2 separate regions of the Homo sapiens genome follow, and region 1 is linked to region 2. The links come from fine-mapping of genetic effects on gene expression. A gene starts in region 2. The other region holds a variant in brackets. All regions are shown on one strand. Distances are between the middles of the regions. Region 1 has its middle 99 kb from the start of CBSLR. Region 2 holds the start of IVNS1ABP (influenza virus NS1A binding protein).

Region 1 (4,393 bases), 100 kb after region 2:
ATAAAAATAAAGGACCAGAAAGCATTAACATAAGTTTAACGAATCCCTTATTTGGGAACAGGCCTCCAAATTAATTTGCAAGTTCTAGATGTCATTGTAAACCGGCTTTCTGAAGGTCCCTTTACCAAGCAATGCTATAAGTGATTACATTGTGACAACCATAAATATACATTTGTAGGATGAATAGAACAAAAAATTATTTTAGTGTTTTGTAAATAGTACTTGTGGCTTGGGATGAAAATTGCAATGGCAGCATCATGGTTTAAAATAAAACAAATTAGATGGAAGAGAAGATTATGTCTGGAAAACTATCAGATGCCTAAAAACATGTCTCATGAAATGGAAGACACTTGTCACTAGACACACAGATGGCAACTTTAAATCAGACACCTTCATGGGATGGAAAAGTGGAAGAATATTTCTAAATTGAATTATTTTATACAATGTGACTTTAAATATGTATACTTAATTAAATTAATAAATTAAACATTGAAATTAGGTACATAACTATTTCATCTATCTTCCTAAAGGCTTATATTTGAGTTGGTCCACATTATTAAAAAATTTTTTTTCTCTTTGGGAAAGTAACCTTATGTTAGTGTTACTTTTTATTCCTGTATGCTTTTATAACAAGAGCAAAATCAAAAGCACAAACTTGCTATGCCTTCCAGGGAATCTTAAAATTTAATAGGAATTATGCTTTTATGTAAGCCATTAAACTGTAATGATGAAATCCCAGGCATCAGCTAGTGGATGGGGAAGGTATTTAGGGAGACAGTCTGGTCTCCGTGCCCTTAGAATCACTAACTTAGACAAGGCCATTTGCTTAGCCCTGAGTGAGGCTGGCTTTGTCGGGGAAGATTCCATCCAGGAACATTTCTTGGAGAAGTGACTTTGGAGCTCAATTTGCAAGTAGGAAGTGGACATATTAGAAAAGAAGGAATAAAAAGACATGTGAGTGACCTACTGCTGCTTTACAAACCACCCCAAAGCTTAAAGGCTTAAAACCACAGTCATTTATTCGTTACCATTCTTTGGCTTGGCAATTTGGGCAGAGCACAGCTAGGATGGCTCATTTCTACTCTGTATCTGTTTGCAGTTGTTGATGGGTTGGTCCATCATAGATGGCCTCTCTGTCCGCCTGGGACCTGGGGAGAGAGTCCTGTAATGGCTGGATGGCTGGGTCTCTTTCTCCATGTGGTACCTCTCATCCTTAACAAAGGACTTGTTCACAGACAGCATTATTCAAAGAAGGCGAAAGTGGAAGCTACAGGGCCTCTGGAAGCCAAACCTTGGTAGTCATATGATATTGCTTCTGCCATATCCTATTGCTCAAAACAAGTCACAAAATCAGCCCAGATCCCAGGGAGTGGGGAAATAGATTCTGCCTTTTGATGGGAAGAGCTTTAAAGAATTCGTGGCCAGATTTATCTCAACATAGGGCATTTCCAATGGGGAGAACAGCTTCTGGAAGGGAATAGAGGTAGGAATACATGAAAGTTGTAGTAGGAATTTTAGAGTCTAGCCTGATTTAAATAGAGGAGGCTTGTTGATGAGCAGCTTGAAATGAAACTGGGTATGCAGCCTAAGAGGCCCAAACACTGTAAACTTGGGACCAGGACTTTGAAGTAAGGGTTAGCAAAGCTCATTGTGGATCCCAGATCACAGCCTCAGAGTTCCTTTTAATTCATCTTCTGTATTGTACTGTATTGTATTGTATTGTATTGTATTGTATTGTATTGTATTGTATTGTATTGTATTGTATTGTATTGTAATTGTATTGTATTATTTATTGAGACGGAGTCTCACTCTGTTGCCCAGGCTGGAGTGCAGTGGTGCGATCTCGGCTAACTGCAACTTTTGCCTCCTG[G/A]GTTCAAGTGATTCTCCTGCCTCAGCCTCTCATGTAGCTGAGATTACAGGCATGCACCACCATGCCTAGATAATTTTTTGTAGTTTTAGTAGAGACGGGGTCTCACCATGTTGCCAGCCTGGTCTCAAACTCCTGATCTCAGGTGATCTGCCTGCCTCGGCTTCCCAAAGTGCTGGGATTACAGGTGTGAGCCACTGCACCCCGCCTGTTTTTATTTTTTAAACAATTTTTGCTTTGACATCTTGGAAGACTCTGTTTCAGTAAAGTATACCATATCCAGGAATGGATTTTATCAATGCCTTTGTGGACTTTCAGAAGACAGAAGAGCACAGAGGCAGGAAAGGACAGTGGTTACGTGCCTGAACTCTGGAGCCAGACAGACCTTGGTTCAAATCCTGTCTTCACCACTATGAAGCCACATAACATTTGGCAAGTCACATAACCTCTTTAAGCTTTGGTTTTCTCCAATGTAACATGGGACTAAAATTATACCTACTTCACAGGAATGGTTGTGAGGATAGATAGTACACTTAGGGATTTGTAAGCATTGAACATATAAGTGCTCAGTTAGTGTCACCTGTGATTATTACCTTTGGATTTTCCTTTTTCATCTGTAAAATGGGTTACTGCTGCTGGAATTCCTGGGTCTTATTCTTAAAATGGCTAATGAAATTCTACATCAAGGAATTTGAAAAGATTAAGGACTATGTCCCCTTTTGTTCTTATTGTTCCCTTAGTGTTCTTATGATCTGTATACAAAAAAGTCTGTTCCAAAGCTAATTGCTACTCTCTACTGAGAGAAGACCAACCTCACAGCAAGTTGCAGTGTTGATGTGTTAAAGAAAAAAATACATTTATTATCTAATTGAATATATTATATAAGATGAATTAGGATGTTGGAATGTGCTTAGTTTTAAGCATGCACCTTTTCCCTATTTAACAAATATTTTGAAATCTCCCACTGTGTTATATGCCCTATGCCAGGTATTAGAGATATAACGATAAATGAAATCAACATTGTTGCTCTCAAGAGCTGCTTTTAATACTCTGCATTAAATAAGGTCTCAGTAAAAATATACATGATTTTTCACCCCAGGGAATATTCATGAATAGATCACTTAAGTTTTTGTTCTCAATCCTGGGCCATTGTTCATATTAACTTAATGGAAGTAATTTGATATGTTTTGGGGAATAATCACAATTATTTTATAGACAATTCTAGAGCCAATCCTAAGTCTGGTCCACCTGTCTGGCAAGTAAAGTGAAAACTCTATTGTAGTAGTGTAGAGCTTCCCTAAGTCCCTCACCTGGGGAAAAAGCCTTTTCCAAGGCTGTTTACACCTCTCATAGTTTTGATGGCACAAAAACATCAAGTAAGGAAGACTTTTAACCATAGGTACATTCTTTAAAAAAATTAATATACAATAATCCACATACAACCAATGCCTCACACACCATGTTAATTGGAACTGACATCCTTTTTTGTAGTCAGGGTTTTCACATCTCTACAAAATAAATAACTATTTACTCAATAAATAGAAAGCTTATAAGGGGGCCCAGTTTAGGTATGAGGAGACCGCAAACTTAAGCTAAGTGATAATGAAACATAAACCATTTGGTAGACTATGGAACTAGGTTCAGGAGAAACACATGCTGTGTTCCGGCTTCAGTTCTGTTGCAGGCAAGTGGCTGATACCTGACTGAGGATGCATCTTGGCCCCAGAGTGGAGGTCACGACCAGACCAAAGTGCTCTCCATCTTCATTATTCCATTCAGAGCATCTGGACAATGCCAAGAAAGCTCCTGGCCTCTTTGCTGTCTCCAGCTATGCTAACTTCCTAAGGTTCTACTCAGAAGCATACATTTTCTCCTCCTCTCCCCTGCTCTCAATTTTCCTCTGTAACTCTCCCTTTAACCATTTCCCAAAAAAATCAATGAAGCAGTCATGTTGTCTTATGTTATATGTGTTAATTACAATCCCTAAAGAAGGAAACAAAAAGTATTGACACATAACTCATTTTGGGGCAGAAAAAAAGCAATGTTGTTTTCTTTTTTTCCGGGTATAGTGAACAGGGTAGCATCTAATCTACTGTCAATTAACTATAAACATGCTCATTCCAGCACTTTAAAACAGAATCCCTCCAGAAAACAGAAATACATTTTTAATGGAGCCACCTGTGCCTCAAGGCCCCTGAGAACTTTAACAAGGATCAGCCCATGAAAATAGTTGCCATAAGCATGTATAATAAATTAAACATGAATTTTAAATTATTCATTACCTTCCTGAGGGATTGTGATGCTGTAGGGATAATGAAAATGCAATGTTAATAAGCAATCAGTTGTAATTTTAAAAAGGAGGTGAAAAAGAAGGGTCCATCTACATTTCACTTTTGCTGAAGAATGAGTTAAAAGGACAGCTTTAAATTAGCACTAATTAATGTAAACTTGCAACGAAAGCTATTACTTTATTTTATTTTATGATTTTTATTTTTTATTTTTTGAGACAGAGTCTCGCTCTGTTGC
Region 2 (4,393 bases):
AAAGCATAACACAAAGTCGTTTATAGTTTGCTACATGGAGAAGGGAAGGAAGGAAAGGAAGAATTTGGTTTGAGACGTTCTAATGCTGAGGTATCTGCATGTTAATAACAAAAATATAATAGTATGATGTTAAGTATAGGTTCAGAAACATTTACAAGATATACAACTTGTAGTTTACAAGTATGTATTTTCTGTTGTTTTAACAAAAACCCAGAAATCAATCTCTTACTCACAATACTTCAATCTACACACACACTAGCACATGCACATGACATGGTGGGAAGACCCCCAACCTTTAATAATTCCTACTTGCAGGATTTGACTATACAATCGCACTGCTAAAAAGTGGATGAAATGACTTACTTAGTGTTACTTCATCTTAATATCAATTAAGATACTTCCTTAACAGGAAAACATTTATATTTAAAAACGTATTTGCAAAACTACATTTAATTACCATCTAACAAATCCTTCAAGCAAGAAAAAATCCCACCTTCCAAAAGCAAGTAGCCAAAAAGACACTAATTTAAAACTAAGACTAAAACCTGAAATGTTTTGTCTTGGGGGGAAAGTTAGAAAATCAACTACAAATTAAGACAATGGCTATAGAAATTAGTATCTATTAGTTAACCAGAGATATCATCTATTAGGAAAACACAGAGGAAAACCATTCCAGGGCTCTCTTTGGTCAGTGGCTCAAGTTCCGTTTACCTCTGGCTACCAAATTATAAGCTTGATAAGCAGCCTGCCAGCTGGCGTTAAATGATACTAGTCTCAATTCAATTCTAAAGTCCATGTTTACCTCACGTCCAGACTTAACAAATACAACTACTCTTTCAGTATCTTTAAGACAGAAGTGTCAGCAGGCTTTAGCCTAAAAGTAATCATCAGTATTTTGTTTTTCCTAAATCAATCACTGGTGCTAGAATTATTAAAAGAAAGCATGGCCTGTGGCAGTCTAGTCCATGCTGTACTTATTCATCTGTTAAGAGTGGTACTAGGCTTCCAGAGTTGTCATCTATTAGTAGACAGAAGACCACGACACACTCAACGAACAGCTTGATGCCAAGGTGTTCTAACGCTCCATCACTGCACGCTCCATCACAAAAATGCGCCCTTTTGGACATCTGATTTCTCCTTGAAATGTCAGCTGTCTCAAACCAATAGATATGTCCACTACCTATTGGGGGAAAAAGTAAATGTAGTTCTCAAGTAGTGGTTCAAGTTACCCTAGGTTCAACCCTCAGCCTGATACCTTCCTATCATCAAGAGCTTATAATCAGAGACACTTAACCAAAAGCGTGGAGGGACGGAAAAAGAGCAAATCTTGCCACTGATTTCTTTCATAAAAAAGAAAGAGCGTCCCAGGCCTTCCTCCTCGCGCAGCCAGGCCGGCGCCCACTCCGCAGGCTGCGAGGCGAGGCCCCCAGCACCCGCACACCCCCGCCCCGGATTGGCCAGCCCCGCAGTCACTCAGTACCGACACGTCAGGGCAGCCGCTCCCTCCCTCCTCCCGCCCCCTTCTCCCCGCGCTTGGCAAGAAAAGCGGGCAACGTGGAGCGGGAACAAAGGACCCCGCGGCCCACGGCGATCGGGGACTCCGTGCCACCCTACTCCAGGCCCGGGGCTGGCTGCCCGCCCACACGAGCCGAGTCTCGAGAGCTCTTCCAGAAGAGAATCCCAAACCCCAGGCAAACCCGAGGCGAGGCGTCCGTTCCTGACAGCAAGAACGGGGAGTCCCGCGCCCTCCTTCCGGCGGGTCATCCCCGCCCGCGGCGCCCTAACCCAGGCCCCCCAAAACCCTTCGAACAAAAAACTCTTGTTCCTCCCAGCCTGCCTCACCCGCGCCAGTGTAGCAAAGGGGCTCCAGCCTCCGCGCTCTCCGAGGCGACCGGCGCCCGCTCTCGGCCGCCAACGCAACTTGGCAACCATGGCAGCGCTGGAGCGCGGGCCCAGCGCGGCGCGGGCTTCACGTCCCAGAGGGCGGCGGCGGCCGCTTGGGGCTGCCTCCCCTGATGAGGACACCGCTTCCGCGCCTCCCACCCTCTTCCCATCCGCCGGCGCCATCCCTTCTTCTCGGATTCTAGCCGCGCCGTCTCCCTCATCTGTCGTTCGTAGAACCAGCGCGTATTACCTGGTTCATCTCTGAAGAGATGGAAACATTCATTTCTAGAGCTTCGATGGGAAGCAGGAGGAAGCGGGCGGGAATCGGCCCAACGGAAAGCGCCAGAAGGCGGCGGAAGACGGGAGCGGTCAAGTAGAAGGACGAGGGGCCAGTCCGTGGAGACTGAAAGGAAGGGGGAGCGCCACCGAGAACTCGCGGGAACTCGCTCGCTCGCCGATACAGCCGCGCCGAAGCAGCAGGCGGAGAAACTGCGCCCAGCAGCTCTGAGCGACCGACCTCCACGCGCGACCGGGAGACACTGCCTCCGCCGCCGCCGACCGCTCGCGCCGCACCCCCTCGCACGTCACCACGTGCGCTGCCGCCGCCGACGCCTCCCAGCCCGCTTCCGTCTCGAATCCATCTGCAAATCACAGGCGAGCTCCATAAAGATCCCACTCTAAGCCCCGCCCCACCCGCGGCCCCGCCCACATCCCGCCCCGCCTTCCTCCCTGGTCTACTGGGGTTCCTTCCTTCTCGGTGTAACTAGGTCAGCGCAAGGTGATCCTGAGGAGATAGGCGGCGCTCGGGGGGCGCCCTCGTTCCTCTTATCGCGCCTTTGTCCCTCCCTCCGTTCCTTGCCCCGCACCCTCACTTTCGCCGCCCTGTGCGTTGCCTGTCCCGGAACTGGTTCCCTCAAGCCGCCCTCACCTGTTCTGACTTCCCCTCGAGGCACAATAGCCTGAGAGATCAGACGTGGGAGATTAGATTGCTCGGCGTCAGACCTACTTCTAGGCAACCCCCCCTAGACTGGAGCTGCTCGTCGTGGACATTAGGATCTAGTTGGGCATGAGCCCTTAACTTAAGGGTCGGGGGGGAAGTGGCGGGTGCGGAGAGGAGGCGTGGAGAGTGTGAGGAAGAAGAGAGGCACTCTGAGAAGAAGTCGAACAACTAACCCCTCATTTGGCCTGGTTTGGGTGAGAAGATTGAGTCACTTGGGGAAAAAAATATTGGAGAAGTCAGAGAAGGTGTAAATCAGTGGTGCCACAAACACCAGTTTACTTCCACTTTTCACCCCCCGGGTCTGTTTTGTCTGCGTGCAGCTCTCCTCGTGTCGGAGACGCTGAGTCAGTTCTCTACTGGTCTTGCCCTCTTCCGGAAAAAGAAAACACACCTGAGAAGTGGTAGTTCCTATCCTAACCTACTGGGGCCCTTTATACCAGGTGCCAAACTTCATTATCCACCCCACCACCTTGCCCGGGAGGGAGATCTGTGAAAGCGAAACGTGATTTAAGCTGGGATCTGGCAGCAACTTCGTGGACTCTGAAGGGCACGTGGGAAAGGAGTTTTGATTGAAGGTGAGGGATTTAGTGAGGTAAAATTATATCCAAATTAGAGTTTGGTAAAGGCTTCCAGGTTAATGTCCTGTTAACGCTTATCCTGATTTGTGGAGGACACTTAAGCTGTCTAGGCCTAACCTTGTGTTTGATCACTCACCTTAATTTGTAGACATTCTAGGAGCTCTTTGTCAATGCCTCTTACCATTTTTATCATTAACTATTTATGCTTATAGAAGCAGGAAAAATAAATTGTGGGAGCCTTCATCTGCAATAGGTTTACAACTTTTTTTCTAAAATCTTGAGGCAAGGAGACTTATTCCCCCGCCCCTTTTTTTCTCACAGATTTCTTGTATGTCTCCCTCGCCCCGCCCGCACCCCGTCCCCCCGCCCCCGGACAATTAATTGTAGGAGGAAACAAGAACTAAGATGTCTATTCGAGTGATTTTTTATATCTTTCTTAAGGAGAAAAAGACTGACATTTGACACTGTGCTCTTGTTTTGTCTTGCTGATAATAACTGACAGCAATGTTTACTTTTCTTACAAATGAAACTATCAGGGTACGTACTTTTAAGCTCTTTAATACAATGGGTTTCATCCTTCCAGTGGGAGAGTATGAATTGCCCACTCTGCGTAGACACATGACTGCTGGCCTGTTGGACACATGGTCACACTTGCTATACTCTAAATAGTGTCTTTGTGACCTGAAACAGTCAACACTTTTCTTAAAGCTACAGTGTGCCCACACTCATTGTATTTTTGCTTTGTATGGAATTTCAAATTTACTTATTACCTTCTCTATGAATAATAGCATAACTTATGCATTCCATTTATGCCTTTCAGGGAACCTGATGGTTAATTTCTACCTCTTAAAGTAACACATTATGTTGTAAGATTTTGCTCTTAATATAGCAGTCCCCCTTATCCTTGGTTTCACTTTCCAAGATTTTGTCA

The links. PIP is the estimated chance that this variant, and not a neighbour inherited with it, causes the effect. A credible set is the group of variants that fine-mapping cannot tell apart.
Region 1: its variant is the best candidate, but not a certain one, in a credible set for the expression of IVNS1ABP in monocytes after LPS (Kim-Hellmuth 2017, PIP 0.51).

What each region holds. Positions count from the first base shown.
Region 1 is chr1:185,414,614-185,419,006 of GRCh38, forward strand. No RefSeq gene overlaps it. Among named protein-coding and RNA genes, the nearest start is that of CBSLR, 99 kb to the left of the region's middle. The variant G/A (reference allele first, on the strand shown) is at 1,871.
Region 2 is chr1:185,314,819-185,319,211 of GRCh38, forward strand. It overlaps IVNS1ABP (influenza virus NS1A binding protein), which reads right to left and starts at 2,425. Exons shown (of 15, transcript NM_006469.5): 1 at 2,135-2,425. It overlaps CBSLR (CBS mRNA stabilizing lncRNA), which reads left to right and starts at 2,634. Exons shown (of 4, transcript XR_007066771.1): 1 at 2,634-3,459. RefSeq lists enhancers at 1,751-2,364, 3,014-3,113, 3,364-3,443 and silencers at 1,854-1,913, 2,374-2,683.